4 linked regions of the Homo sapiens genome follow. The protein of the gene in region 2 interacts with the protein of the main gene of each other region in a pairwise test. Each region holds a gene or a part of one and is shown on either strand. Other genes may lie near its edges. The genes, in order: DIP2A, PTPN3, TFAP4 and VWA2.

What was found.
Region 1: the proteins of PTPN3 (region 2) and DIP2A interact in binary tests that used the Homo sapiens proteins (3 or more experiments, as listed by UniProt).
Region 3: the proteins of PTPN3 (region 2) and TFAP4 interact in binary tests that used the Homo sapiens proteins (3 or more experiments, as listed by UniProt).
Region 4: the proteins of PTPN3 (region 2) and VWA2 interact in binary tests that used the Homo sapiens proteins (3 or more experiments, as listed by UniProt).

What each region holds. Positions count from the first base shown.
Region 1 is NC_000021.9:46,454,537-46,461,909, forward strand, and holds the start of DIP2A (disco-interacting protein 2 homolog A), read left to right. Parts: upstream 1-4,354; 5' UTR 4,355-4,595; coding exon 4,596-4,686; intron 4,687-7,373. UniProt on the Homo sapiens protein: Catalyzes the de novo synthesis of acetyl-CoA in vitro. Promotes acetylation of CTTN, possibly by providing the acetyl donor, ensuring correct dendritic spine morphology and synaptic transmission.
Region 2 is NC_000009.12:109,376,287-109,383,309, forward strand, and holds part of PTPN3 (tyrosine-protein phosphatase non-receptor type 3), read right to left. Parts: intron 6,162-7,023; coding exon 6,016-6,161; intron 5,502-6,015; coding exon 5,366-5,501; intron 3,348-5,365; coding exon 3,270-3,347; 3' UTR 1-3,269.
Region 3 is NC_000016.10:4,263,006-4,270,028, forward strand, and holds part of TFAP4 (transcription factor AP-4), read right to left. Parts: intron 5,200-7,023; exon of another isoform or gene 5,043-5,199; intron 3,926-5,042; exon of another isoform or gene 3,497-3,925; coding exon of another isoform or gene 3,447-3,496; exon of another isoform or gene 2,686-3,446; intron 1,878-2,685; exon of another isoform or gene 1,345-1,877; coding exon of another isoform or gene 662-1,344; intron 1-661.
Region 4 is NC_000010.11:114,277,236-114,284,258, reverse strand, and holds part of VWA2 (von Willebrand factor A domain-containing protein 2 precursor), read right to left. Parts: intron 6,346-7,023; coding exon 6,212-6,345; intron 5,541-6,211; coding exon 5,408-5,540; intron 3,535-5,407; exon of another isoform or gene 2,635-3,534; coding exon of another isoform or gene 2,488-2,634; intron 1,747-2,487; exon of another isoform or gene 1,744-1,746; coding exon 1,688-1,743; intron 1-1,687. Other genes in the region: AFAP1L2 (actin filament-associated protein 1-like 2), read left to right, coding at 2,488-2,634.

The sequences.
Region 1 (7,373 bases), on a different chromosome or scaffold from region 2:
GTCCACAAGTCTTCCAAATGTTTGGCTAATCACTTTTCTCCAGGATGTAGTTATCAAAAGAAATTGCTATCAGACCCTTTGGAAAAGTACCTGGGGATTCATTTCTGTTGTACTTGTACTGTTATAGGTCCTTCTTCCTGGTGTTTGGCCACCTCTCAAGTAATGTTTCCATTTCTGAAAACTGGCTCAGTTCCAGAAGCTGGGCATGGAATCCTGATTTTTTAAAACTGGGACAAGCATCTTTATTTATTTTTTTCAATTGAGACAGTCTTGCCACATTGCCCGGGCTGGAGTGCAGTGGTGCAACCACAGCTCACTGTAATCTTGAACTCCTGGGCTCAAGTGATCCTCCCACCTTAGCTTCCCCAAATGCTGAGATTACAGGCACAGGCCACCGTGCCTGGATGGATTTTTTTTTTTTTTTTTTTTTTTGCCAGCTGAGTAGTACCCTTCTTAGCTGCCCACCTGTTTTGCCTCCAGGGATGCCATGTTTATTGACCAGTTCTATAACCATACAAGTGAGGTCCCCTTGGCTGCCACTCAGACCCTGCTGGCTGCTATAATTGCAATCCTCTGACTTCTGCCAGCTAAGTGTTGCCTTTGGCTTCTTGGGTTTTTTTCTTTGGTCCCCACTATGTCCCAGAATGGCCTCTTTTGTCTTAGGATCCTATCATCCCCAGTGCTATCACCCAGCCAAGTTCTGGAACAGCCTTTCTATTGTCATTCTTGCCTACAGAGATGAGCCATCACTGAATATTTTAGTGACATCAGTGCCCCTTTCATCATCCTATGTCTAATGATCTTTATAAATGACGTGTTATTTACACCTTCATGTGGAATATGATCGTCTCAAATGTCTTCTAGATGCACGGAGTATATAAATTTCAACATGCCCACACCCCTGAACCTTTTACTCCCTTCCACCACTGTCTGCCATAGCAATTTTGCCATTTCAATTTTGCTTACCATGGCCCATGGCTTTTTCCAAGTGTGGTGTTTTAAAAATATACTGGCAAATTTTTTGATATTCTTCCCTTTAGAAGATGAAGCCTAATTCCTCTCCTTTTGAATATGGGTAATTTAGTGACTCATTTCTTCCAAATAGGAAGTAGCCGAAGTGATGGTATGCAACTTCTGAGGCTGGTTCACAAAAAGGATACAGCTTTCTTTTGTCCTTTGTCTTTAGATTGCCCTTGGAATCCAGCCATCATATTGTGAGAAAGCCTCGGCCACAGGGACCGGCCGTGTAGGGGTGTGCTGGCTGACATCCCCAATCTGGGCTGCAGCCAATCTCCAGTATCAGCTGTCAGACATTCGAGCAGATGAACCTTCACTCATTCCAACCTCTAGCCTCTGAACTGCTCCAGCTGAGGCCTCAGACACTGTGGAAGAGAGATAACCAATCCCCACTATGTCTGACCCACAGTAACCTAGAGAGATCACCGATCCCCACTATGTCTGACCCACAGTAACCTAGAGATAAGAAATGATTCTTGTTTTAAGCCACGAAGTGTGGAGTAATTTGTTAGGCAGCAGTAGCTATACCGCCATTCTAGGAGCCATCCTTGCAGGAAGTCTGCAGCCACTCTTTGCCAAGGTGTTAAATCACGTATTTCAATAAACACATCTATGCAAGTTTACATTCCAGCTCCCTTCATCAAGCACCCTCATAATCCAGCCCCAAACTTTCCCAGCTCCTGTCAGTACATGTTGGCTGGGTGGTACAGCTTGTTATGGGCTGAAGTGTGTCCCTCTCAAAAGATGCTGAAGCCCTAACCCCTGGTCAATGTGAATGTGACATTATTTGGAAATGGGTCTTTGTAGACAAGTTAAGATGCGCTCATTAGAGTGGGCCCTAATCAGTATGACTGGTGTCCTTCTAAAAAGAGGCCCATGTCGAATGACCTTTGTCAATGATGTTACTTATGCCTTCGTCTGGAGAGACACACACAACAAGATCACCATGTGAATATAAAGGCAGGACTGGGACAATGCCTCTATAAGCCAAGGAACCAAAGACTGCCAGCAAACCACCAGAAGCTGGGAGAGAGGCATGAGACAGATTCTCCCTCCCAGCCCCAGAAGGAACCAACCCTGTGAAAACTTTGATCTCAGACTTCTAGCCTCCAGAACTGGGAGACAATAAATGTCTGCCCAGTTTGTTACTGAAGCCCCAGCAAACTAATAACGCAGTTCTTCTGAGGGGGAGGGAGCTATATTCTCTTTTCTATCTCATTGTTTCCAGCTGAATAATGCAAAAGAAACAACCATAATTATACATCTACTGAGCAGTAAGTGGAGGGAGGAGGAGTAGTGTCAGGTTAATAGGAGAGGTGAGCCACCCCGGCAGGCTTCAGGTTCAAGGCAGGCCAGGTGTGATGGCTCACTGGAGCCTAGAAGTTTGAGACAAGCCCGGGCAACATAGCAAGACCTTGCCTCTACAAGTAATAAAAAATGTATCCAGGTGTGGTGACACATACCTGTAGTCCCAGTTACTTAGGAGGCTCAGGTGGGAGGATCGTTTGAGCCCAGGAAGTTGAGGCTACAGTGGGCCATGATCCAGCAACTGCACTCCAGCCTGGGCAACAGAGTGAGACACTGTCTACGAAAAAAAGGTTTAAGGCAGTTTGGGGAGTCAAAACCTTTGAAGGCATCTACCCAGGTATCTCCAACCCATGTATGACGGGCTTTTCTTTTCTTTCTTTTTTTTTTTTAAAAGACAGAGTCTCACTCCTGTTGCCCAGGCTGGAGTGCAGTCACAGCTCACTACAGCCCTGACTTCCAGGGCTCAGGTGATCCACCCACCTTAGCCTCCCAAGCAGCTGGGACCACAGCCGTGGCCACCATGCCCGGCTAATTTTTTGTGTTTTCAGTAGAGATGGGGTTTTGTCATGTTGCCCAAGCTGGTCTTGAACTCCTGAACTCAAGCAATCTTCCCGCCTTGGCCTCCCAAAGTGCTGGGATTACAGGTGTGAGCCACTGTGCCCAGCCTCATCTTTTCTTAGCAGGGATCCAAACTTAGTGGAAGAGTATTGCCTTGTTTGGGTGTTTTGCTATTTTTGGAGTTCAGTCAAACAGGGATGTTAATTCCTGGGCCTGGTTCTTGTCTTTGACCTGCTGCAGTAAATGAAGCTTCTCTATATGTAACGGGACAGATTCACTGGCTTACAACTGTTTGTTGCTTGCCTTCAGCTGACCACTATTCTTAAGAGTCTCGGTTGGCACTAAGCAATAGCTATCCAATCCCCCTTTCCTTCCTTTTATCTACTACGTTCACCATATATGAAATGTCTGATACTTCACCCACTCGTGGATTCCATTTCACTAGTTCACCCTCCTACTTCACCACTGGTGAGTGATGCAGCCTCGAATCCCATCTTCTCACCAGCTTTAATGCTGCAGAATGGTTTCTCCAGAAGCAGACGCTGCGACTGAGTTTGGGGTACGAGGATGTTGACATGGTATCAACACCCGTGAAAGGAAGGGGAAGGAAGCAGGACTGGGCGGAGGAAGAAGGGTATGTAAGTCCCGCAAAGCTTTGGCCAACCTCGTGTGGAGCTCTGGAACGAGAACTGCTGAAGTTCGCCAGACTCGGGCACTCCTGCCTAACTCAGTAACAGGCGGGCGGCATCGGGACACGGACACGCTGCTCAGGCCCCGCCACAGCCACCCTCGCACCGTCAGACACACTCCCACACATTCGGGGAGCAGGGCCTTCAGGACGCCGGCGGCGCCCTCTCAGTCTAGCTCCGCCAGGCCCCTCGTCCGTCCTCCCGCCCTCCAAGGTCACCTCGCGGTCCGACATGGCTGCTGGGGCTCCTTCGGGGCCAACGATGTGTACTTCTAGGGCTGTTTTTTAAAGCAAAGGAGTGAACACAGGTAAAGGCACGAGAAAGGTGCCTCGACGCCACCACGGACTGCGCAGCGTTCGCGATCAGCACAGCCCGAAAGGGAAGACAGCGGTCAACGCGGACGCGCCATGGCGCGGGGACCAAGGAGGAGCCCCGAGAGGGGCGGGGCTGGCCGGAGGGCCGCGCGCGGGGCCACCAGCGGCGCCTAGGGGTCAGCGCCAACGCCCACGGGTTGGTCATCCCCACTTAGGCGCCTCGGGCCGCAACTAAGCAGCCTGCCCGCCTCAAGCCCGCCACCCTCAAGCAGGCCCAGCGCAGAGCCTGTCGGGAGCGGCGCTCTCCCGCCTCTCCCAATGGGAGCCCGGAGCGGCATCGACGCGTCTTCGGGGCCAATGGAAGCGAGGCTCTGGTGTTGCTGGGCGGGGCCGGGAGGGCTGCGCGGGCCCGAGACCCACTGCGCACGCGCGCTCGCTACCCGCCCTTCCCGCCGCGCACGCGCTCCCGTGTAGGGCCGGCCGGGCGCTCAGGAGCGCGCGGGGCAGCGGCGGCGCGGCGGAGCCATCCGCGCTCGTGCCCGCGCGGGTGCGTTGCTGTCCTGGCCGCGCCCCTGTCCCGCCGCCTCCCGCTCCTCGCCTGGCGGATGTAGGTTGTTGGCCTGAGGGGAGCTACGTAGCCGAGGTTTGCGCTGCCGCCGCCAGGCCCGGTCCGGTTCCAGCCTCTGCCCGGACGCTAGCCGGCCTGGCCATGGCTGACCGCGGGTGCCCGCTGGAGGCGGCGCCGCTGCCTGCCGAGGTGCGGGAGAGCCTGGCTGAGCTGGAGCTGGAGCTGTCGGAAGGTGAGCCGGACCCCGCCCTCAACCCCCGCGACCCGCCCTCAGCCCGGTCCCCCGCGCAGCCCCTCACTCCGGGACCCCCGCGCGGCCCCTCACTCCAGGACCCCCGCCCTTCACCCCCGGGACCCCCACGCGGCCTCGCCCCTGGGACCTCTGCCCCTCAACGGGACCCCGGTTCCTCTACCCTGGAACCCGCCCCTCGCCCCGGAGACACCGTTCCTCAACCCTAGGACCCCGCCCCTCATGTGGGACCCCAGCACGACCCCTCGCCCCGAGACCCCGGCCCCTTACCCCCGGGAACTCCCGCCCCTCACCCCCGGGACCTCCTGCCCCTCACCCCCGGAACCCCGCGCGGCCCCTCACCCCGGGGACCCCGCCCTTCACCCTGGGAGCCCCGCGCTGCCCCTCCGGACTCCCGACCCTCAGCCCCGGGACACCCGCGCGGCCCCTCAAACCAGGGACCACTGCCCCGCCTCTCATACAAGGACCCCTCCCCCATACAAGGACTCCTCCCCCCAGGCCCTTCACACCTGGGACCCTTACTCCTCACCCCGGGACGCCTGCCAAACTTCTGGAGACCTTTCCCTATCCCCAGCTGCTCCCCCAATGGGATCCGACCCCAAGGACTGGCTTTGACTAGGTCGTTTGGACAGGTGTGAGAATCTTGAGAGGAATGACCACTTTTGCCCCAAGCTGTGAGCCCCGCTTTTCTCAAGGCTGTAGGTCTGGGCTTGGTCTGGGCTTCACCAGGATGACTGCGCCCGTTGTCCGCAGGCAGCTACTTCCCTTGGAGCTGGGAGCCCTTGCCGCGCGCCTCATACTCTAGGAGCTGCACCCTGTGCCTCATTTTATTATCTATAAAGTGGGGTTATACCAGCACTTTCCATTTTGGATTGTTATGAGGCTAAAATACCTTAATATATGCAAAGCACATAACACTTAGGAGTTGTTAGCCCCCTCATGGAATTTTTTAAAGTAAAAAAAAAAAGTCGTATAAATGGTTGGTTGATAAAAATAGACTGGAGTAATCTGGCTTCAGAGGTGGTGGGTGGCATTTCCCATTTGGATGTTATCCCTTTCAAGGCCTGTGTCCTGATATTCCTTTTGGCTGTCTTTGGGAAAGAGTTAAGTTCTTCTCCAGTGTCAGAAAGGACTTGCAGTCCTTGAAGAAAAGCATGTAATTGATTCTTACTCTGTTTTTGAGATCTAAATGCATTTTCAGCTTTTAGAATCCATTTTTTAAATAATCTTATTATCCTTAATTTAAGTTTCAGATTGATAAGATTTTGCTGGGTCTGGGGTAGTTATTTCTCAAAACATCTAAATAATATGCACTAGCATACAGTAAGTCATTTAATCCTTGCCAACCTTAGGGAGGTAGATGCTGTTGTGATCTTGTTTTACATATAATACAACATGTACTTGCAACTATTTTGAATTCAGCATTCAGATTTTTAACAATGTTGTGACATGTGGCACATTTTTTTTTTTTGAGACGGAGTCTTGCTCTGTTGCCCAGGCTGGAGTGCAATGGCGTGATCTCGGCTCACTGCAACCTCTGCCTCCCAGGTAGAAATGATTCTTCTGCCTCAGCCTCCCGAGTAGCTGGGATTACAGGGGCTTGCCACCACGCCCAGCTAATTTTCGTATTTTTAGTAGAGGCAAGGTATCACCATGTTGACCAGGCTGGTCTCAAACTCCTGACCTCAGGTGGTCCGCCTGCCTCGGCCTCCCAAAGTGCTGGGATTACAGGCATGAGCCACCGTGCCTGGCTTGTGGCACATTTTTAAAAATGGAAGTACAGGCTGAGTACACAGTGGCTCATGCTTGTAATCCCAACACTTTGGGAGGCCACGTTGGCTTGGAGACGGGAGTTCAGAACAGCTTGGGTAACATAGCAAGACTCTGTCTCTACAGTATTAAAAAAAATTAGCTGGGCATGGTGGTGTGCACCTGTAGTCCCAGCTACTTGGGAGGCTGAGGCAGGAGGATCACCTGAGCACTGGAGCACTCCAGCCTGGGCAACAGAGCGAGAACCTGTCTCTTCTCACCAAAAAAAAAAAAAAAAAAAAAAGGAAAGAAATGGATGGATTTGAGAATTCTTGGTGATTAGATGCTCCTAGGCAGTCTGACAAACTTAAATTAGGAATGGGTTTGACAGGATCTACTGTACTGCATTTGTTAAGGCTCTTTAGGGAAAATCACATATACGCAGTTTAGATTCTGTGCATTTCAAACATATTTTTGCGTATTGCTCCTAATTTCTGCTCCAATGTATTCATTATTCCCTCAATTTTTTGTGTTGTAGTTGTGTTTGAGTGCTTGCTAGGCATTGACAATTGAATCCTTTCCTCAAAGAACTTTATAATTTGTGCGACAGAACACAAGTACTTAAATGAAAGAAATGTTTCCTATCTGTTGGATCCATTTATGCTATTGTCATCTTAGAGATATGTAGGGGATGTATAGGTAAGTAAAGGTATAAGATTATGTAACATGGAGAGGAACCTCGAAAAATAGCTTAAGCTGAGAAAGGGGGTAAACAAAAAAAGTATTGAGCCCAGAAATGGTGGCTTAGGCCTGTTATGTTTGCATTTTGGGAGGCCCAGGCAGGAGGATCACTTGAGCCCAGGAGTTTGAGACCAGCCTAGGCAACATAGGGAGACCCTGCCTCTTCCAAAAAAAAAAAA
Region 2 (7,023 bases):
TTCTGCTGCCTCTTTGTTGCCTCTGGAGGATGAAGAGGGCTTTTTCGCTTGCCCTCAAATGCTCATTTCTGAGGTACCCCCCCCAGAAAAAGGTCAGGTAGCAACACAGCAGCAATAGTATCCACACTAATCTAAAAGCATATTTAAATATGAATTACTGTGGTAGGAAACGAAAGACAACTGTGTGATCCAACCACTGCCCCCTAACCAAAGTTGCATTTTTTTCTTCTGGAAAGTCAAAACACCAAGTGCAGGTTCTAGAGGGTGACACCAGCAGGGATCTCTCATCTTGATTAAATTGGCACATCAACATGTTTAATTAGATCTTTCAGAAAGTGCCAGAACATAGGATGTAAATGTCTTCTCCATTCATATGCAGCCAAATTTCCCAGGCAAAATACTTATCCTGATTCTGATGTAGTTCTTCACTTAGGACTAAAAAAAGGCTTAAGTATAATTGCTTAAGTGTATAAGGTGGTGAAACAGGAATCTTGAGCTACGGATTTTAAGTGGTAATAGCTACAGGATTTACTTGAATTGTTTGCTCTTTTAGGTAATTCTCTTGTCTTGTTCTTCCCAGTATTTCCTGGATTTGTTCCTGGCAACCTCGCTGGGTCTGAACTGCTGGCCTGCCCAGTGGCAGAAGACTGCTTGCAACCTTTGGTAGGCTTTTTAGAAATTTATGTGACCGTAATGGCTGCATTTCTGCAACCATAATAAACAATTTGTTTTTGGAAAAAAGCAGTAAAACACCCATCTCCAAAGACATTTAGACTACTTTGCAAGCATTTTGCACACAGGGTGATGATGCATTTTTACCAAACAGTAATAACTTGCTAAATATCCTAATGGCATTTAAATTTTTGCCAGCGTTCCCTCCATCCCCCTTTCTTGGAGCTTGCTGAATTTTTGTGAGTCCAGATTATTTTGTGCTCTTGTTCTCTCTCTTCTAGAAGAGCATTTTCTATTTTCCTCTCATAAAAACCCAGTTAGGCTGGGCACAGTGGCTCACGCCTATAATCCCAACAGTTTTGGAGGCTGAGGTGGGAAGATCACTTGAGGCCAGGAGTTTGAGACCAGCCTAGGCAACACATCAAGATCCTGTCTCTACACACACACACACACACACACACACACACACACACACACACACACACACACACACACACACAAGCCAGGTGAGGTGGCATGTGCCTATAGTCCCGGCTACTCAGGAGGCTGAGGTGCGAGGATTGCTTGAGCCCAGGAATTTGAGGCTGCAGTGAACAATGATCATGCCACTGTACTCCAGCCTGGGCGACAGTGAGACCCTGTCTCTAAAAAGAGAGACAAAAATCCAGTGGATTCTATTTTTGACTGATGTGTTTTTGGGCTAATCACTGATAACTAAACTTTTCTAAGTAACTCACCCACAGCAGTGTCTGTTGCTGTTCTAGCCGATAAAAAGTCACATGAATAGCGTGATCTTATTCAATCCTCATGTTCCAACTAAAGTCCTAAGTATTGTTTCTATTTTACAGATAATGAAAGAGAGGTAGAGCTTCTAAGCAACCAGGCCCGCAAGTAGTTAGTGCTGAGTGGGCGTAGGAACTGAATCCCCTGCCCCTTAGCTGCAAACTTTCTGGTGGTTTCTTGTTTTCAATATGGGGTTATGGTACTGTGTGACATCTCCCTCCCACCTCTGCCATTTAGCAGTAAAATATCCATGTGGAAAAGAAACAAAGTATGCAAGTAAATATGCTAGCTCTAGAGATAAAGAATCTCCCATATAGGTCTTCATCCGTCTTGCTACCAGCAAACTATTCAATTGGCACCGAATTTGCTGAATATCAAAATGGCTTCATTTATGTGCATTATAATATGAAAACATCTTTTCTATAAATACCATTAAGAACCTGGCTTTACTTCCTCTTCTGAGTACATAAAAACCGCTGTTCAAAAATACCACATTAAATGTTTACACAATTTATTTTCCTTAAATAATAATTTGCTACAATCCTGTCACAAATTTAAAAAAATTTAACACGGTATTCACAAAGGCAGAATTCTTTAGGACAATCAAAATGATGGTGTTCTTAGAATAAATTAACATCAGATTGTGTTTATATTCAGATAGTCTGATCCTCTCCTTTGAAATGCAATGGAGACCATTGTGACTGGGGGTGAATGCACACATTTGTTCTTCCATACAGAGACTCATTCTTTATATATACTCAACGGTAATTTGAATCGTTAGGAATCCTGAGAAACACTCACCCCTGGGCACACACATGTACACAGCCCCACGGCCAACCCTCCAGAAGCTGGGTTTCCCATGGTTCAATTACTAGAAGCTCTTTTCTCAGAAGGCCAAACATTCGGAATATTTAGATGACACTGTCCCATCTCCCCTTGGGAAAATCATAAGGTTTCAAGTGGAGGAGCTTGAAGTAGCAGCAATACATGTAGGAGATTCAGTAGTCGGTGATTCCAGTCCTGGGTGCTGAGTGTGCAGTAGGAGGCAAGCAGAGGCAAGAGACACACCTGCTTCTACAACTAAGCCACAAGATGACCAGAACACACTGAGAGTACCAGTTCTCAGAGCCTCAGCTGAAAATTCACCTGAATGCACATTACTAATCCAGGTTAGGCACCAAGAGGGAACCTGAAGAGGGACACAATTCTCAGAAACATGAATATTGGAAGTCGCTGGGAGATGGGACAAAGGGAGGGAGGGCAGAGAGGTGTTGCTCAGCCTTCAGCCTGACCCCCAGTGCCCTGCCATCTAGTACATACGTCAGGGTTTCCTTAGCATCAGGGCGGGTGAATCTGAATTGTTCCAGCTCCACCTAGAAGCACAGAAAGCTCAGCCCTTACAGTCTGACACACAGAAACAAACAAAACATCCAAATGACCCAAGATAACCACACCATCTTGTTGCTGGGAGGACAACAGCTCTGTGGGTGTCCGGTCTCAATTGCTCCAGGATGCCGACAGGGGTGTGTGTGGTGATGTTAGGGAAGAAGGCATTAGGACAGGCCCCAAACTGAGATCCTTTTTGTATCTTTCCATAGAAATACAGGCCTAAATGATGCCATAATTGCATGCTTATCTACACCAGTTCCTATGTACACGATATCTTTTCTATAGAAGTTTAAAGTGCCTGGGTTCAGAGGTGCCCATTCCTTTCCCACAGCTACTGGTTCCTCTTGCTGCTTCCAGAGAGGTCTGTCCTCCTCTTTCAAGGAGGATGCCCTTGGGAAAGAGGAATGAACTTTTTCACAGTTGTCTTAACTAGGATCCAGCATTTGGACTAAACCTTCTTCATACACACGAAGAATCGCTTCACACACAAACTTGTACTGGCTCTGGAAAAGAAAAAAATGCTGTCAAGTCCTGTAGCTCCAGGAAATGCTGCCTACCACACCCTGTACCGGTGGGTCTTTTGCAGCATTTGTAAATATTCCCTGAGCGCCAACTCTGGGCCACAGGCCAGGTACACCTGTGAAGCCCTAGTTCCTATATGATGCGGGGAGGGGGCACTCCCAGAGAGGGGTGGGCAAAGTGTCATGGAGACATGACAGAGGGAGAAACTGGCGGTCTGGGGGAGGTGGGAAGGAGCAAAAGTCCCTGCGGGACAGCCCTTCTTGTAAGTGGAAGTGTGGAAGCCTCAGTAAGAGCCCATTTTGAGAAACGGGGTCAGGGAGCCTGCTCCTGGACTCAACACCTAGGCATGTGGAGGAGGAGGGGCTGCACAGGTGGGCTGGGACCTGGTTGTGGGCACCTTGTGTTGGGGTAAGGAGTCTGGATTGTGTTTTACAAAGCAGAGCCACTGAAAGATGCTCTGCAGGATACAGTTATTTATCTTAGCAAATACCTAAGAAACATATTGTAGCAAAGTATACAGGGGGGATAAAAGCATTTAGACTGAGCTTCTCCAGCTAGGAAAATCTATCTATCTATCTATCTATCTATCTATCTATCTATCTATCTATCTATCTAGTTTTCAAGACAGAGTCCTGTTCTGTCACTCAGGCTGGAGTGCAGTGGCGTAATCTTGGCTCACTGCAACCTCCACCTCCTGGGTTCAAGCGATTCTCCTGCCTCAGCCTCCCAAGTAGCTGGGACTATAGGCACATGCCACCATGCCTGGCTAATTTTTGTATTTTCATTAGAGACGGGGTTTCACTATGTTAGCCAGGCTGGTCTTGAACTACTGATCTCAAGTGATCCACCTTCCTTAGCCTGCTGAAGTGCTGGGATTATAGGCGTGAGCCACCGTGCCCAGCTTCCAGCTGGGAAAATCTACCAGGATGATGGACTTTTTTCTTTTTAACCAGCCACGAGGTCTTCCATACCAAAAAACAGGGCAGAGAATGGCCCTAATAACATAAGCTGATTTTTTTTCTCTTAACAAGATTTTCTGGGTACAAACTAATATAAAACTACCAAAGCTTAAAAATTTATTAGGGAAATCTTATAAACTTTGTCCACAGCCTGTGAAGAGACAGAGCTGGTTGGAACATATAGTTCCTGCTCCTTTCTTTGCTAACTCCTCATGTACCCTGGGGGTTTTTACCAGAGAAGACACTTCTCCAGGAAGCCTTCCTAGACTTTCCAAATCCTGCTTTAGATACTCTTCCACCATGTTCTCAGACAGCCCTGAACTTCCCTCACCGCTGCTGACACTTAGCATAGACTAATCCAGTTCTCCTACTAGATACAAGCCTGTCTCTGCACCCTTCTTTGTCAAATGAATGAATGAATGAATGTGGGATGGTCCCCATTTTGCACAGGGAAGCTGAAGCTTGGAGAGAGGTTCAGGACTTATGCAAAGGTTGTTCCATTTGTGGTGGGACCTTAATCATGCTCTTTCCACACCGCTTCACTGCCCCGCTTGCAGTTCCAGGGGAAATCCCCAAGAGTTATCCCCTAGAGTTCCTCTTGAGGACAAGAGGATGTTGCACATGACCCTACTTTGAGCTCTGGCCTGCCCGTGGAGGACACAGCAGGTACTCAGGCACCACACGGGTGGAACAGAGCTCAAAGTAGGGTCATATGCAACATCCACTGAGCCAAAAGGAGTACCCAGGTCTAGGTGGGTCGGTGCGGGGGAGGATAATGGACAAATGATTGTTCAACGATACAGAATGCAACCAGGGCTGCTCCCTGACAGACGGGCTGGCAGGAAATAAACCACAGAGGCAGCAGAGCTCAGAGGTGAGATGGGTGTGGGCTGTAGCCACTGACAAGCTCTGTGACCTTGGGCAAGTGATTCAGTCCCCCTGAGCTGCAGTCTGTTGACTCACAAAGCCCTTCTCTCAGGCCTGCCTGGTGTAAGTGCTCAGAAAGTGCCAGCCACCGTAATTACTGGATTTCTACTCACTGATGTCTGCACCATCATGGCGCGCTGGTCTCGCATTTTTCGGACAATATCCAGTGGGTAAATGGGCAGGTTCCTCTCAGTTAGGCACATGGCTGTTTCCATAGTGACCAACACACCGGTTCGACCTATTCCAGCACTGGAGAGGGGAGAGAAGACAGACTTGGGATTTGTCTGAGTAGCCTTTCTGCATGGCCCAGCGAGCAGTTCCCCGCTGACTCCAAAGGGGCTTTCCTCCCTTGGCCTTCGAGAAGACAAAACGCACACTCACGGCGTGCTCTCAAACAGGCTGAGACAGCCTGTCCTCACACATCTGAGACTGGGGGCTAGCAGGCAGTGGAAAGAGGGCCACTGTGAAGTGCCAAACCTATTCCCTTTCTCACTCACACCTATGACGAAGGTCAGCTGACAGAAGGACAGGAGAAAGGGTGTGTGAGGGGATTTTCTTCTTCAGTTCTGTGCTACATTCACAAAGTTAGGATTTCATAAAATTCCAAAAAACTTTTGAAATGGTGAAGAACCACAGTCAACAGAGGTTTGTAAGGGCACACGACTTTGTGGGATGTAGGGTGGGTCTGGCGCCTGCCAATTGTCTCCAGGCCTTTTCCGACAGGGAAAGGATTCCAAACCTAACAAAACAGCAAGCGCCATACCTGCAGTGAACTAGGACGGGCTCGCTGTCCACTCTCAGAGACCTCACATAGTTTACAAATTCCAGAAAGTCGGAGGAGTCATCGGGCACACCGTGGTCAGGCCATGCGACGTACTGGAGATGTGTCACTGTGTGTTCTTCCCCGGTCTGTGGGAGATGCAGTGGCCTTGGTGAGCCCATCCAGGTGGTGAGCATGAGGACCCAGCCCCAACCCAGACACAGGGTGGCCCTGTCTCCTGATGCTTTCTCCCTCTGCGCACAGCCCTGCTGTGGCCCCTAGCAATTCCTCCCCTCCTTCCCCAAAGATCCCCATCCCCTCTCAGGCTCAGCTGTGGGCCTGTCCTGCAGGGCTGCCTTCCTTGATCACTTCTGCCCAGTGATCTCCTCTGCCCAGTGATCTCCTCCATTTGCTGCTATGGTACTTGCCATTAGAGGCCACACATGCTGACTGTTTTTTTTTTTTTTTTTCAACTGTGGCAAAATATACTAACATGAGGCTTACCACTGTAACCACATTTAAATGTACAGTTCAGCGGCATTGAGAATACTCGCAATGTTGTAGAGCCATCAGCACTACCTATTTCCAGAACTTTAAAATATCCCGCAAACATAAACCCTGCACCCATTATGCCATATGGCAAAATGTCCATAGATGTCCTTTCTCCTCCTTCCCCAAGCCCTTGGCAACCACCGTTCTACTTTCTGTCTCTATGAATTGGACGACTCTAGGCACTTCACAGAAGTTGAATCCTACAGTATGTGTCTTTCTATGTCTGGCTTATTTCACTTAGGATAATATGCTCAAGGTTCCCCAGTGTTGTAGCAGGGGTCAGAATCTCCTTCCTTTTAAAGGCTGAATCATATTCCATTGTATGGACAGACCACGTGCTGTTTATCCATTCCTCCATCGATGGACACTGGGCTGTTTGCACCTCGTGCCTGTTGTGACTAGGGCCACTGTGAACTCTGGGCCCTGGCTCTTTGATGGGCAGTCTTGCGCACTTACTGA
Region 3 (7,023 bases), on a different chromosome or scaffold from region 2:
TCTACAAAAAAATAAAATTAGCCAGGTGTGGTGGTGCATGCCTGTAGTCCCAGCTACTCAGGAGGCTGAAGTGGGAGGATCGCTTGAGCCCAGGAGTTGGAGGCTGCAGTGAGCTATGATCACGCCACTGCACTTCAGTCTGGGCAACAGAGCAAGACCTTGTCTCAACAACAACAACAAAAACCCATCCCCTCCCTGGCTTTCCTCACAGGGAGCAGTCTCTCCTCCGGAACAGAATTCCCAGTGTGTCTGAGCATCAAAACATCCAAGAGCTTAGAAACTATGCAGACGACGGGTGCTGGCCCCAGCGTCTGACTAGCAGGCCCGGTGGGGCCCAGAAACGTGCGTGGTGTGATTCTGATGCACGCGGGATGCAGACGACATTCAGGGACGCTGTCCCCGCTCCTGGAACACTTCTGAGTGATTTGCTAGGCACCTGGAGCGCCTCTTCAGCGTCTCAGGCTTTGCCACCCCAGGACTGAGGAAGACGTCCCCACTCCCTTCCTACCCTCACGGCCACGCCTCCCACCACAAGCCCCAGCCCCGCTAGGCTAAGACTTCACAGAAGACAAGTACCACTCACTCCCCAAAAAGACACCAAGCCAACAACCCCTGGGGACACGGCTCCCCACAGCCCACCCACTCCAAGAGATAGACCCACCCTGCGCCGGAGAAGCGAGGCTCCCACCATGCTGTGGGGAGCGCTGCTGACCCTTGCAGGAGCAGTGGCCAGTGCGGTGAGAAGGCAGCCTGGGGGAAGAGGGCGTGGCTGCTGGCTGGGGGCGTGGCTTCGGACGAGGGCGGGGCGTGTGCGCCAGGGGGCGGGGCTGCGGGCCAGGGTGCAGAGGCAGCGGTTGTGGGCCCAAGGCCACGCTCCCGAGGGTTGGGCTTGTGTGTGGCCTGGAGGAGGCATGTCCCCCTCCCTGGACCTCCCCTGCAACTCCCCCCGCCCCTGGCCTGATGGCTTCCAGATGCTGGGCTCTCAGCAGAGGCTGCCGGCCCCACCCGAAGCCGCAGCCCCGGCCTCTTCCTGAGGGGCCCTCCCGGGGTGCCCTGTTCCAGGACTGGGCCAAGGGGGCTCATGCCCCTGAATGTGGGAGAACAGGAAAAGGGTTCTGGGCAGCTCCTGCTCCATTGATGAAGGCAGTCTGGGGTCAAGGGGCTGCCAAGTCTAACTCCCCTGCTGTGTGCCCTGGCCCCTTCGCCAGCCTGCAGGCGGAAAGGAGTTTGCACGGACCCCGGAGGCAGCACATCTGCAACAGCTGGAAACAGCCGTGGCCTTCCTGGCCCCACCCAGCCTGCCCATCTGTCCAGCCTTGGCTCCCTGTGGGACCCTGGACGCATCGCTGCCCCTTCCCCGGCCTCGGCTTCCTCTCCCAATAGAGAGGTGTCCAACGCCGGAAGTCTGGATGCAAATCAGCCTCCTTCCGTCCTCATCAAGCCAAGCCCCCTCCTCCATCAGGACCCAAAGGCCCAGGGCCTGCACCCAGGGTACAAGTCTCTTACAGGGTCTTGAAATGTCCGCACTGCAAAAGGGGCCCGGGCCCCCCACTTTCCATGAGACTTTAGGGTGCAGGGCAGAGAGGGGATGGTTTTAGGGTCGGTCAGCTGGATGTCAGTGCTCTCACTTCTCCCGGTTCCCCTGCCCTGAAGTGGAGGTGATAGGGGGACTGGAGCAGGCCTGCTGCACGGCTGTGTGTGGCCCAGCCTTAGGGCGGAGTCCAGGCTCCCAGGCCTGGCACAAACTCAGACCATACCATGTCTGAGAGGCCAGCAGGCCAAGGGGACCAGGACTGCTCTGCAGTGGGTGGCTTAAAGCTGGGGCTCTTTGGAGGTAAGAGGTGGGAAGAGATGTCCATAGGAAGCCACAACACAAGGTAAGTGCAATCTTGAGGCATCACCATCCCCCTCAGGAGAGATGTGGGGAGAGACCCCTGCCCACCCAGCCCCTGGGTCCCTCCTGGCAATGCCCAAAAGCCAGAGCTGACTAGGGGGTGAAAAGGGAGCACCAAGTCCAGCCTTGGGCCACCTGAGAGCTGGCCCTCCTGGAGGGTCCACAACAGAGGGATACATTTTTTTTTTTAAGTTTTTGGCGAGAATTTTCTCACTGAATTGTCACAATGTTCCTGAGTCAGGTGGCCTGAAGACTCCCATGTAAAGAGGGGGGCACAGAGGTTTGGGTAGGGTCCAGCTGCAGCAAGCGCTGGGCGTGAACCCTGACCCCAGAGCAGGTGTCAGGCCATAGGGCAGAATGAGCTCTGACCGGCCCACAGAGCCAGATGCCCCAACTGGCAGGTGACAGTTATCCCTGTAAAAGAGAAGACTAGGCCGGGCACAGTGGCTCACACCTATAATCCTAGCACTTTGGGAGGCCAAAGTAGGAGGATCGCTTGAGCCCCAGAGTTCAAGACCAGCCTGGGCAACATAGTGAGACCCCATCACTAGAAAAAATTAATCAGCCAGGCATGGTGGAGTGTCCCTATTGTTCCAGCAACTGAGGAGGCTAAGGTGGGAGGATGTAATAAGCCCAGGAGGTTGAGGCTGCAGTGAGCTGTGATCATGTCACTGTACTCCAGCCTGGGCAACAGAGTGAGACCTTGTCTCAAAAAAAAAAAAAAAAAAAAAAAAAAAGGACCAGGCATTCGGAAATCGCTGTAATCGTGTAACTCTTTTTATTATTCACAGACCTCGTTGACATTTTTCCCTGCCTGATTCTCACAAAACCCAGTGGGGTGGCCGAGATTACAGTGAGCAAGCAATGCAGGGTCGTGGGAAGGAAGGTGATGATCCCAAGGTCAAGTAGCCAGACCTGGCACAACAGCAACCTGCAGATGCCAACCCACTGAAGCGCCTCTACTGACTGCTAGTTCACACAGCCCGCCACTTATCAGAAGCGGGTGTGTGACTGCAAGCTCAGCCATCACCCCTGCCCCTCTGAACACAAGCCCACAAGTGAGGTGACTTGCCCAAGGTCACACCCAGCAGCTGGGCAGGGCAGGGTGCAGCCAGATGCACCCTTCTGCACCTCCCGGCCCAAGTCCCACCAACTCCTCTGCTCTTGGGAGCTGACCCTCAGCCTCTTCCGTCCCTTCCCCGCAAGGCAGCCCACTAACTGGGAGACCAAAGGAGACCACCAGACCCCAGTCCCGAAAACCCCAGCCGGAAGTTCTCACAAGGAAGAGGAGCTGGGGCTGGGATCAGGGGCCTGTGTCGCCTCCTCCTCTGCATCAGAATCTGCCGGCCCAGCTTCTCCAATGCTCCATCCTGCCTCCTTCCTCTCCAAAGCCATCAGCCCAGTCTCCTGGCTCAGAAACCAGCTGCTGGCTAACCTAGTGCTTAACTTAGGTTAAGCACTTTCTTAAATCCAAGAAAGCAAATTTCCCCCCAAAAGGTACAGTTCCTCGTGGGACCTGAATCTGCCACCAAGACCCTCAAATATAACTCACCTAAATTGCCCTGGAAGTACCCGCCGACAGAGTCCTTTAATAGAATGCATTCTAACCAAGGCTTCTGATTGGTGGAATAGGAGCTAACCAGGGGTTGTGATTGGTGGAGTGCCGCTAACCAGGAATTCTTATTGGTGGAATGCTGACCAACCAGGGCTTCTGATGGCTGACCAACCAGGGGTTCCTGTTGATGAAGGATGGTTGATTGAAATTTCCAGGTGATACTGCACTGAATAAAGTGGATTTTTCTGCAAATGCCTGAAAGTTTCTGATAGCTCTTTCTGGGGTTTTGCATTTACGGTTAAGGTCTGTAAACGTCCTACACACACAGTAAAGGTCCACTATCCTCTCTCTGGCCACTTCAGACTCCTCCAGGTGAAAATCAAAGGTGACCCAAGTCCACCAACACCGAGGTTCTCTTTTTTCTTTTGACTGAGTCTCGCTCTATTGCCCAGGCTGGAGTGCAGTGGCACAATCTTGGCTCACTGCAATCTCTACCTCCCGGGTTCAAGCGATTTTCATGCCTCAGCCTCCCAAATAACTGGGATTACAGGCGTGATCCACCAAGCCTGGCTAATTATGGGGGGCGGAGGGGGGGTTGAGATGGAGTCTCGCTCTGTTGCCCAGGCTAGAGTGCAGTAGCACAATCTCAGCTCACTGCAATTTCTACCTCCCGAGTTCAAGCAATTCTCATGCCTCAGCCTCCCGAGTAGCTGGGATTACAGGGACCCACCACCACGCCCGGCTAATTTTTGTATTTTTAGTAGAGATGGGGTTTCACCATGTTGGTCAGGCTGGTCTCGAACTGTTGACCTCAAATGATCCATCCGCCTCGGCCTCCCAAAGTGCTGGGATTATAGGCATGAGCCACCATGCCCAGCCACACCAAGGCTCTCTTGCTTCTTGCAAGCCAGCCTCCTGGGTCCAAACAGGGGCTGCCCTAGATTTAGGAATAAGGTCACTGAGCAGCCAATGGCCAAGGAACAAAATTTGGGCACCAGCCTTGGATGCTAAGGCAAGAGCCGCCACACCTACCACCACAGCACCCACAGAATCTGCTGAGACTGACGCTGGCGTCCCAACCAGACACTTGGAGGCATGGGGCATGCCCTTCAAGTCTAGAACCCTGCCAGGTACCTATCCCTCCTGCCCAGGCCAAAGTCAAGTACCCCCAATCCCTCTACACCTGCCTGCCCAGCTCCAGCCTCAAACCGGCCACTGAGAACTTTCATTTCACACTGCCCTGAAGTCACTCACATACCTCAGGGTCACTTAACATCTACACAGTCAACGTGGGAAAGTCCACACGGGATTCTCCCAAACCCAAAAAAGCACTAAGGCACTCATCCTTCTCTAACCTAATCAGCCCGAGGTTCTCATCCATGCTCCATCCCCGCTGCTTCTACACTACTCACCCATACTCTGTACTCTGACCTGGCCAGTCTGCTGCCCTTCCCCTCGGTCCCAGAACACACCATGCCCAGGCTGTTGCCATCAGAAACATCCCTGCCTCCCTCCCTTCCCCAAAGCTCCTCCAGCCCATCAGTGGGAACCCTGCACTGGGCTCAAGTGAAAAAGTCCAGCCTTGCCACTTACTAGCTGTGCAACACCAAGCCTCGGTTTCCTCCGTCTGTAAAATATGGAAACACTGCTTCACTTCACAGGGTCATGGTGAAGTTTAAAAGAGATCAAGAAAGGCCAGGCACGGTGGCTCATGCCTGTAATCCCAGCACTTTGGGAGGCTAAGGTGGGCAGATCACCTGAGGTCAGAAGTTTCAGACCAGCCAGGCCAAGATGGTGAAACCCCCTCTCTACTAAAAATACAAAAATTAGCCGGGTGTCGTGGGACGTGCCTGTAATCCCAGCTACTCGGGAGGTCGAGGCCCAAGAGTTAGTTTGCACCCAGGTGTCCAGGACAACCCATGAAACTCTTAGGGGGTCTACAAGACCTTTTAAGACCACAAGGCTGTGAGCTGCTGAGGACAGGAGTCACATCCTGTTCATGGCTGTATCCTCAGTCCCGGCAGAATGTTGTTGCTTCATAAATAAATCAGGGACCCAATAAACACTCCAAAGCCTTCAATTTTCTTGAACTCCTTCTTATGGGAGCTTTTTAAGTTTTATTATTTTTTTAATTTATTTTTATTTATTTATTTAGAGGCAGGGTCTCACTCCCGTCACCCAAGCTGGAGTGCAATGGCATGATCTCGGCTTACTGTAGCCTCAACTTCTTGGGCCCAGGTCGTCCTCCTTCCTCAGCCTCCCAAGCAACTGGGAGTATAAGTGCACACCATTCACACCCGGCTAGTTTTTTGTATTTTTAGTAGAAACAGGGTTTCGTCATGTTGCTGAGGCTGGTCTCGAACTCCTGGGCTCAAGTGATCCTCCCGCCTTGGTCTCCCAAAGTGCTAGGGTTACAAGAGTGAGCCACTGCACCCAGTCTTACTGTTTTTTTTAAGAGACAGGGTCTCTGTTACCCAGGCTAGAGTGCAGTGCTATGATCATAGCTCACTGCAATCTCCAATTCCCAGGCTCAAGCCATCCTCCTGCCTCAGCCTCCCAAGGAGCTGAGACTACAGGCACATGCCACCATGCCGGGCTAATTTTTTTATTTTTTGTAGAGGTGGGGTCTTGCTATGTTGCCCAGGCTGGTCTCGAACTCCTGGGCTCAAATGATTTTTTCCCCTTGGCCTTCCAAAGCACTGGGATTACAGGCTTGAGCCACCGAGCCAGGCCTAGGAGCTTTATGATACAGACAGAGGCCAGGCGCGGTGGCTCACGCCTGTAATCCCAACACTTTGGGAGGCCGAGGTGGGCAGATCACGAGGTCAGGAGATCGAGACCATCCTGGCTAACACAGTGAAAGCCTGTCTCTAATTAAAATACAAAAAATTAGCCGGGCGTGGTGGTGGGCGCCTGTAGTCCCAGCTACTCGGGAGGCTGAGGCAGGAGAATGGCGTGAACCCGGGAGGCCGAGCTTGCAGTGAGCCGAGATTGCACCACTGCACTCCAGCCTGGGCGACAGAGCGAGACTCTGCCTCAAAAAAAAAAAAAAAAAAAAAAAGATACAGATGGAGAGTCCGGGCACGGTGGCTCACGTCTGAAATCACAGCACTTTGGGAGGACGAGGCGGGCAGATCATAAGATCAGGAGATCGAGACCATCCTGGCCAAAATGGTGAAACCCCGTCTGTACTAAAAATACAAAAATTAGCCGGCCATGGTGGAGCGGGCCTGTAGTCCCAGTTACTTAGGAGGCTGAGGCAGGAAAATTGCTTGAACCCCGGAGGCAGAAGTTGCAGTGAGCCGAGATTGCGCCACTGCACTCCAGCCTGTGCGACAGAGTGAGAGTCCATCTCAAAACAAACAAACAAACAAACAAACAAAACACAAGATATGGATGGAGACTACCATATACCTGCCCATATACCTGCTTTTAAGACTCAGTGGCTGGGCGCAGTTGCTCATGCCTGTAATCCTAGTACTTTGGGAGGCCAAGGTGGGCAGATCACCTGAGGTCAGGGGTTCGAGACCAGCCTGGCCAACCACTATGGTGAAACCCCATCTCTACTAAAAAT
Region 4 (7,023 bases), on a different chromosome or scaffold from region 2:
CAGGTAATGACAGTATTGACTTTTGGATGTGAGATGCAAATTATGAGCAAGGCCTCTTCAAAGCTGAAAGTTTACATGGGAAACCACAGCCTGTGTCAAAATGTGGCCCATTCTGAAGCGTCTGATCTATGATTCCCTGTGGTCCATGCCTGAGCATCTCATTGCTTTCCTTATCAATTATTACAAAGTGCAGCTAAAACCACATGACCTCCTTCCCAGGGTTACAGAAAACAAACAAGGTCTTCATGTGATCATGTATTCCAAGAGCTGGATAAGCAGCTGAGTGTGGTCACAACTGGGACTGGCATTTTCTTGTCCTTTTTGCTTACAAATATTAATCTCTTTCTTGATGGCCACATCATTGTAATTAAAATATAGACTTTTCAAAGGCAGAAAAGATTGAGGCTAAGTCTAGGCACTTCGCTGGGGCTGCTGTTGTATCAGCCAGAAGACTGTGGAAATAGCTGGGGGCTCACTGAGATCGACGACAGTGGCCTTTAACTGAGCATCTATTATGTGCCAGGGACTGTGCTAAGCACAATACACGCATGGTCCCATTTCATTGTCACAACCTTAGGTAGGAACTATAAAAACCCTATATGACAGATGAGGAAGCTGAAGCTCAATGAATAGAAGTCACATGCCCCAGGTCAGATCATTGGTAAGAGGCAAAGCTGGGACTGAAAGCCATTTCACTCTAGTTTCCAAACCGGAAGTCCTCAAACCCTAATTTCTGAGCAGAAACAGCTCCACTCTCAGATTCTCCTGTGCTTCAGAGGCCGTGGTGCTGGAACTGTAAACCTTGTGAACATACTGAAGGGATCACCTAACCCCAAATAGGGACACTCGCTACCCTGCCTGTGTGTCTAACTGCTCGCTACCCTGCCTGTGTGTCTAACTGCTCGCTACCCTGCCTGTGTGTCTAACTGCTCGCTACCCTGCCTGTGTGTCTAACTGCTCGCTGCCCTGCCTGCCTGTGTGTCTAACTGCTCGCTGCCCTGCCTGTGTGTCTAACTGCCGGCATTGCTTCCGGGAGACAGGCTACTCATCGGGAGTAACAAATCCACCCCAGGACTGACACCTACACATTGAAGGGCAATTTCAAGCTCCCAGGTCAGTGGGGTCACTAGCACCCCAAGTGAGGGATAGTGAGGGCACACTGGTGAACCATGCTGAATGATGCATAATGGCATCGATGATTCCTCACGTTAATTTGGGATTTTACAGCTGAGGGATTACTTCCATGGGCATTATCTACTGAATCTTCACTAGGACCTCATATACGATGACCCCCTTTCACATGGAGGAGGGAAATGGGCTTCCAGACATCGGACAAACCACTATGTTTTATAGAGGAGGAAATCACTCAGATATCTTGCCCTGAGTTTGGTGCTGGCTTTGAGGATGTCTGCAAAGCTGGTGCTCGGTGCCTGCCTCTCTGCCTCTCACCAATGCACACAACACTGGTTCAGGGGAGTAATCCCAAAGCCGCCACTCCATTCTTAATGAGCAAACACCATTGAGGGAGTCAAGAGCACACTCTCCTCTGCCCCCCAAGTGCCCCATCCCTCTGCCCTGGAGCCAGTCACAACCCCACCCTCTGTCCCAGGATTGTAAAAGCCACTTTACAAAGCAGCCTGGGCCCAGGGCCCTGAAAGAACCTGTAAATCCAAGAGACAGACCATACCTGGGCAGGTGGTCCTGTAGCAGGTGGCAGGGTGGGTTAGGAACACTCTCTTCCAGCTACAATCCAAGGAAACAGAATTATAGACAGATCAGAGGTGTAAGGGGAGGGCAGAAAACAGAAGATGATTTACAACACCAAAAGCTGATAGAAGATTCCAATGCAGAAGTAAGAAAGACTTCCTGGTTTTGTTTCTTGATTCTACCCTAACTTTTCTCTGCACATAGAGTAGGGAATGTTTCAAACTATCCAGTGACAATTAAAAAAAATAGGCTGGGAGTGGTGGCTCACGCCTGCAATCCCAACACTTTGGGAGGCCAAGGTAGGCAAATCACTTGAGGTCAGGAGTTTGAGACTAGCCTGGCCTACATGGTGAAGCCCCGTCTCTACTAAAAATACAAAAATTAGCTGGGCGTGGTGGCATGTGCCTGTAATCCCAGCTTAGCAGGCTGAGGCAGAAATGCTTGAACCCAGGAGGCAGAGGTTGCGGTGAGCCGAGATTGCACAACTGCACTCCAGCCTGGGTAACAGAGTAAGACTCCATCTCAAAAAAAAAAGGTAACATAAGCTGGCTATCACATTTGAAATTAGGGACATCCACATGCAAAACCCCAAACTGTAGCAACAGCTTTTTATTATAAGTTACTTTCTGAGGCTTACGATGCAGTAGGGAGAGAAATATTGGGAACTGGGCAACTGGATTTTGGCTGTGTGACCACAGACATGTTACTTTCCTCCTCTGGTCTTCACTTTCCTCTTTGTATAGTAATTCTATCTTCACTTTTCAACTGTATTCCTTAAAGCTTCGATGGGGAGAGAAGAGCACTGAAGGAGCAAGGCTCCAGGCCTCCCGCAGTGCCCCAGCCCCGCCCCTCCACCCCAGGTGTGCTGCTACTATCTGGTCCACACAACAAGTGTCCACACGAGGCTCTGCAGGTCAAGACATGTAAGCCACTGGACTCAATGACTTCTCAGGTCTGCTGGAGAACTAACGTTCTGTGATAACACAGCAGCCACCATTCCTTGGGTGGCTTCCACCTGCTGGTGTTCCATGAACCACAGCTACCTGAAGAGATGGTTCCCTCCATGTTCCAGATAGGGAAATGGGTTCTGAGGGCTCACTTAGGGCCCCTGAGGTCACATAATTACCGGAACACAGCAGAGCTGGGATCCAAACCCTGACCATGACTCCAAATCCCCCCACTCTACCCTGTGGGCCTCACCCTCGCCTCTCCTGCGTCTCCGGGGCCATGTGCCCTGCTGTCACAGGAGCGGTTCCTCATCTGGGGGCAGAAAGCCCCACTCTGGGTTGGCAGCAGCTCCTGGGATGGCCTCACCTGAGGAGACTCTTGGGCCTTGGCAGAAACATTCCCTAAAGTTCTCCAAATAAGGCTTCTTCCAACAAGATCCCACCCTGGGCTGCCCACACAGGGGCAGGCCAATCAGGTGCTCCTCTAGGGCAGGGTCTTCCCTGGGGTAAAATGGAGTACACGCCAAGTCAATTCAGAGCTCATGGAGTTGCTGAAATAAAGGTTGCCAAGGCTGGGCGTGGTAGCTCACGCCTGTAATCCCAGCACTATGAAAGGCGGAGGCAGGAATTGAGCTCAGGAGTTTAAGACCAGCCCGGGCAACATAGTGAGACCCCATCTATAAAAAAAAATCTTAAAAATTAGCCGGCCACGGTGGTGCGTGTCTGTAGTCCCAACTACTTAGGAGGCTGAAATGGGAGGATCACTTGAGCCTGGAAGTTTGAGGCTGCACCAAGCCATGATTCTGCCACTGTACTCCATCCTGGTGACAGAGCAAGACCTTGTCTCAAAAAAATAATAATAAAAACAAAGTTTGCCAAACTGCCAGCTCATTCAAGAGAAATCGTCTTCTCTTCCATGTCTATCCTAGTGACCTCATAAAGCCACAAGTCCTAGCCCAGAAAGATCCCTGGGCCCTTCCCCCTCCCTGATTTAGGCTTCCCTGGGAATCAGCATTTATGGAGCAGACACTACCAACAGGGCTTTGCAGGGACCTGCACACAGTTTGCCCCCCACCTCCCTCAGGTCTGGACACAAATGCCACATGCTCTGCAAGGCCCTCCCTGGCCACTCCATTTCAAACTGTGACCTTGCCCCAACCCCCCGCCTACCCCACCGCATCCCCATCTTGCTGCTGTGTTCCTCCACAGCACCTGCTACCACTGAACAGTTTATTTTCTGTATTCATTTTGGAATGACTGCCTCCCATTACTGGAGCGTCAGCTTGTGAGGGTAGATGTGTTTCTGAGATGCTGGTGCTGATTTCCCAGGACCTGGGTGAGTGCCAGGAGCACAGGAGGCCCTCAGTGGGTATTTCTTGAGTGAAGAAATGGGTGAAGAGCTCCCAAATGCTTCATTCTAGGAGCCTGCAATATTAACACATCTACCTATTAAATCACCGCCTGTTCTCAACAAACCTGTAGGGCAGGTATGATTATTATCACACCCCTTTTCAAACATAGAAACATGCAGTGGTAAGTTCACCGCTCCCTAGTGGTTCTGCTAAGATTAAAAATTCAGCAGCCTGAGAGCAGAGTCTGAATGCAAGGCCCAGGAAGTATACACTGCAGCCACCAGCCTCTTCCAGCCGCTCCCGGCTCTGAGCGCCTTGCCCACTGCCACAGTTCCAAATCTTGCAAAACTGCTCGAGCAGCCCCTTCTCTGTGACATCCCAGAGAGGACAGACTCCATCCCAACACCTAGGATGCCTCAGGGTGGCCGCTGGTCTCCTTTTCCAATGCCCTCCTCTAAACCATGATTCCTTGGGGGCAGCAACTGTACTGTCTTCTTATTGCACATTGCCTGGCTCTGAGCAGGCACTTAGAAAGTGGCCACCAAGGAACGAATCAACTCCTCCTTTCACTTGAGAGGTTGGGTTCTGAGGAGAGCCTCTGGTGGCCCCAGAGTGGCATGAGACCTCATCTCCTCTGACCCTTATGTAGGGGGCTGGCCTTTCCCAGAGAAACAGTCTTTGGATTCTCCATCAGCCCAGCACAGCCCTAAGGCTTCTCAGCCAATCCATTTCACTGCTGTGTGCTGTGCTGTGAGCTCATCGCTGGGGGAGGACCAATGGGTAAAGATGCAGCTGATTCAAACACTGCCCCGGCCCCCCAGAAAGGGAGAGGGGCAGGGTCACCAGTCTCCGGACAGAGGTGCTGAATGGCAGGTAGTCTAAAGAAAGTGCCCAGGAACAGTGTGGGGAGTGTTTGGGAGGGATGGGTGGGCAGACGGGCAGCAGGTGCTCTTGGGTGCCTGGGCTCCAATCCCAAAGAACCCAGCATCCCATAGCCTCCCTGACTGGAATTCATCTGAGGATCTCTATCCTCTTGCCTCACTCAGCCCCCATAATGTGGAAACTGGTGCTCAGAGGAACCAAATTACCAAATCAATATCCCAAGTGCAGACCACCGCCCTGCAGGGCCAGCACTTGGCTCACTCACCAGCCTTCCAGAATGCCTGTGACCCTGCCACCAGTGCTCACCCTGGGTACCTGGGCTGTGTGTTAAGGGATGCTGACACTGAGTAGCTGTGCCTCTCCCTGTTCTCCCATGGCTACGTCCCTGGCTCCCTCCCAGGTCTCCTTCGATCCCTGTCACAATCTCCATGGCAGGGCCCCAAAGTACTATCCTCCCCGCAGCTCAGGGGTGGGGGCCTTCATCTCCACCCAGGCCGAGCCCAGACCGCGCAGACAAACCTGTAGAAGGGACAGTGTGCAGCCAGCACCGCAAGGGTCCGCCGCGATCCTCTCCAGCATGGGGCATTGCCAGCGAACTCCCGGACCATCTCCAGCGTCCTGTGCTCACAGGGGTGAGCCTCGACCCTGCAGTCTGTGTCCACAACACACACCCACACCCACGGAGGAGACAGGGTTCCACCTCCTCCTGCCACACACGCTTCCCCAGCAGCTGCTCCCGCTCCTGGGAGGTTCCACCACACTTCCAGGCTGGCCACTTTCTGCTCTCTCAGGTCAGGGCATATCTCTGGGTGAAGGGCCCTGCTCTGCCTGTTCAGCGGGGCATCCAGTCTCTGAGCATCTCCTCTGCTGGGCCCCACCCCACACAGCTTTTGCGTAATGGGCACACATGTACATTCCACATAACGTCATCAATGTGGCTCCTGGGTGGACCCTGACAAGGACGACTAGAATGCAGGGATCTCGCACCAAGCACAAAGCCTCCTTGTGCTCCTCTGTGTGGTCCAAGGCAGGGGGAGGAGACTTGGCTCTGTCTCTTGAGCAGGGGACAGGGAACCTACTACATTTGGGTCTCAAACCCTGGGCCCCTCTACCTCCATGAAGACAAGCTCGGGGCTCCCAGCTGGGAAACCCACAGGGCAGGGCACAGGGAGACGCAGAGCATCCAGGGTGGAGGCTGCCGGTCTCTGTTTCTCTTGCCTGCCCTCCATCCTTGGGAGGCTCCTGGGTCCTGACCTCTTGCCTCAGGGAGCCCTCCCCGACCCCACATGGCACTTCCACTCCCTCCAGGCTGGAAGATCTTACCTGGCGTGGCGCTGGAGCAGATGGCCGAGCTGCTGAGGGTGCTGAAGAGGCCGTTGGTGGCATCCTCCACCTGCTCAGCCAACAGCACGTGCTGCCCTCTAGGCTCGCTGGCCAGTGCATGCAGCTCCTCCCACCTGTGCCAAGGGGTTGTAACAGCTTGTGGTCCTATACCCACCCTCCTCCTGCCCCCTCATCTTCTAGGCCGTGGGTTCCTTGTGGATGGCAGCACAGATTTAGTGTCTGGTTTTGTCAGACCCATAGCTGGTGAGGAAAACAGTTAACCGGAATGGAAATGAAAGAAAGTGGTTCGAGGTGACAGCAAGCAAAGAACAAGCAAGCATAGCTGGTAACAGAAAAAAAGACTGAGGAATGATAAACAATGGACGTAAGAACTCCAAGGCCAGCAATAGGAGGCCATCTAGAGGAAGCGGCCAGCACACCTCGATAGCCATAGGGCAGCGCTGTTTGTGCCAGGAGGAAAATGATGTACAGATGGTGACACTAGGACATGAAGAAAGGGTTAGGCGATGTTGAGAAACCTCATTTTAAGAAGACACACAGTCGGAGGGGGGGTGTGGTGGCTCACGCCTAATCCCAGCACTTTGGGAGGCCGAGGTGGGTGGATCACTTGAGGTCAGGAGTTTGGGACCAGCCTAGCTAACATGATGAAACCCCATCTCTACTAAAAATACAAAAATTAGCTGGGTGTGGTGGTGGGTGCCTGTAGTTCCAGCTACTTGGGAGGCTGAGACAGGAGAGCCACTTGAACCTGGGAGGTGGAGGATGCAGTGAGCCGAGATTGTGCCACTGCA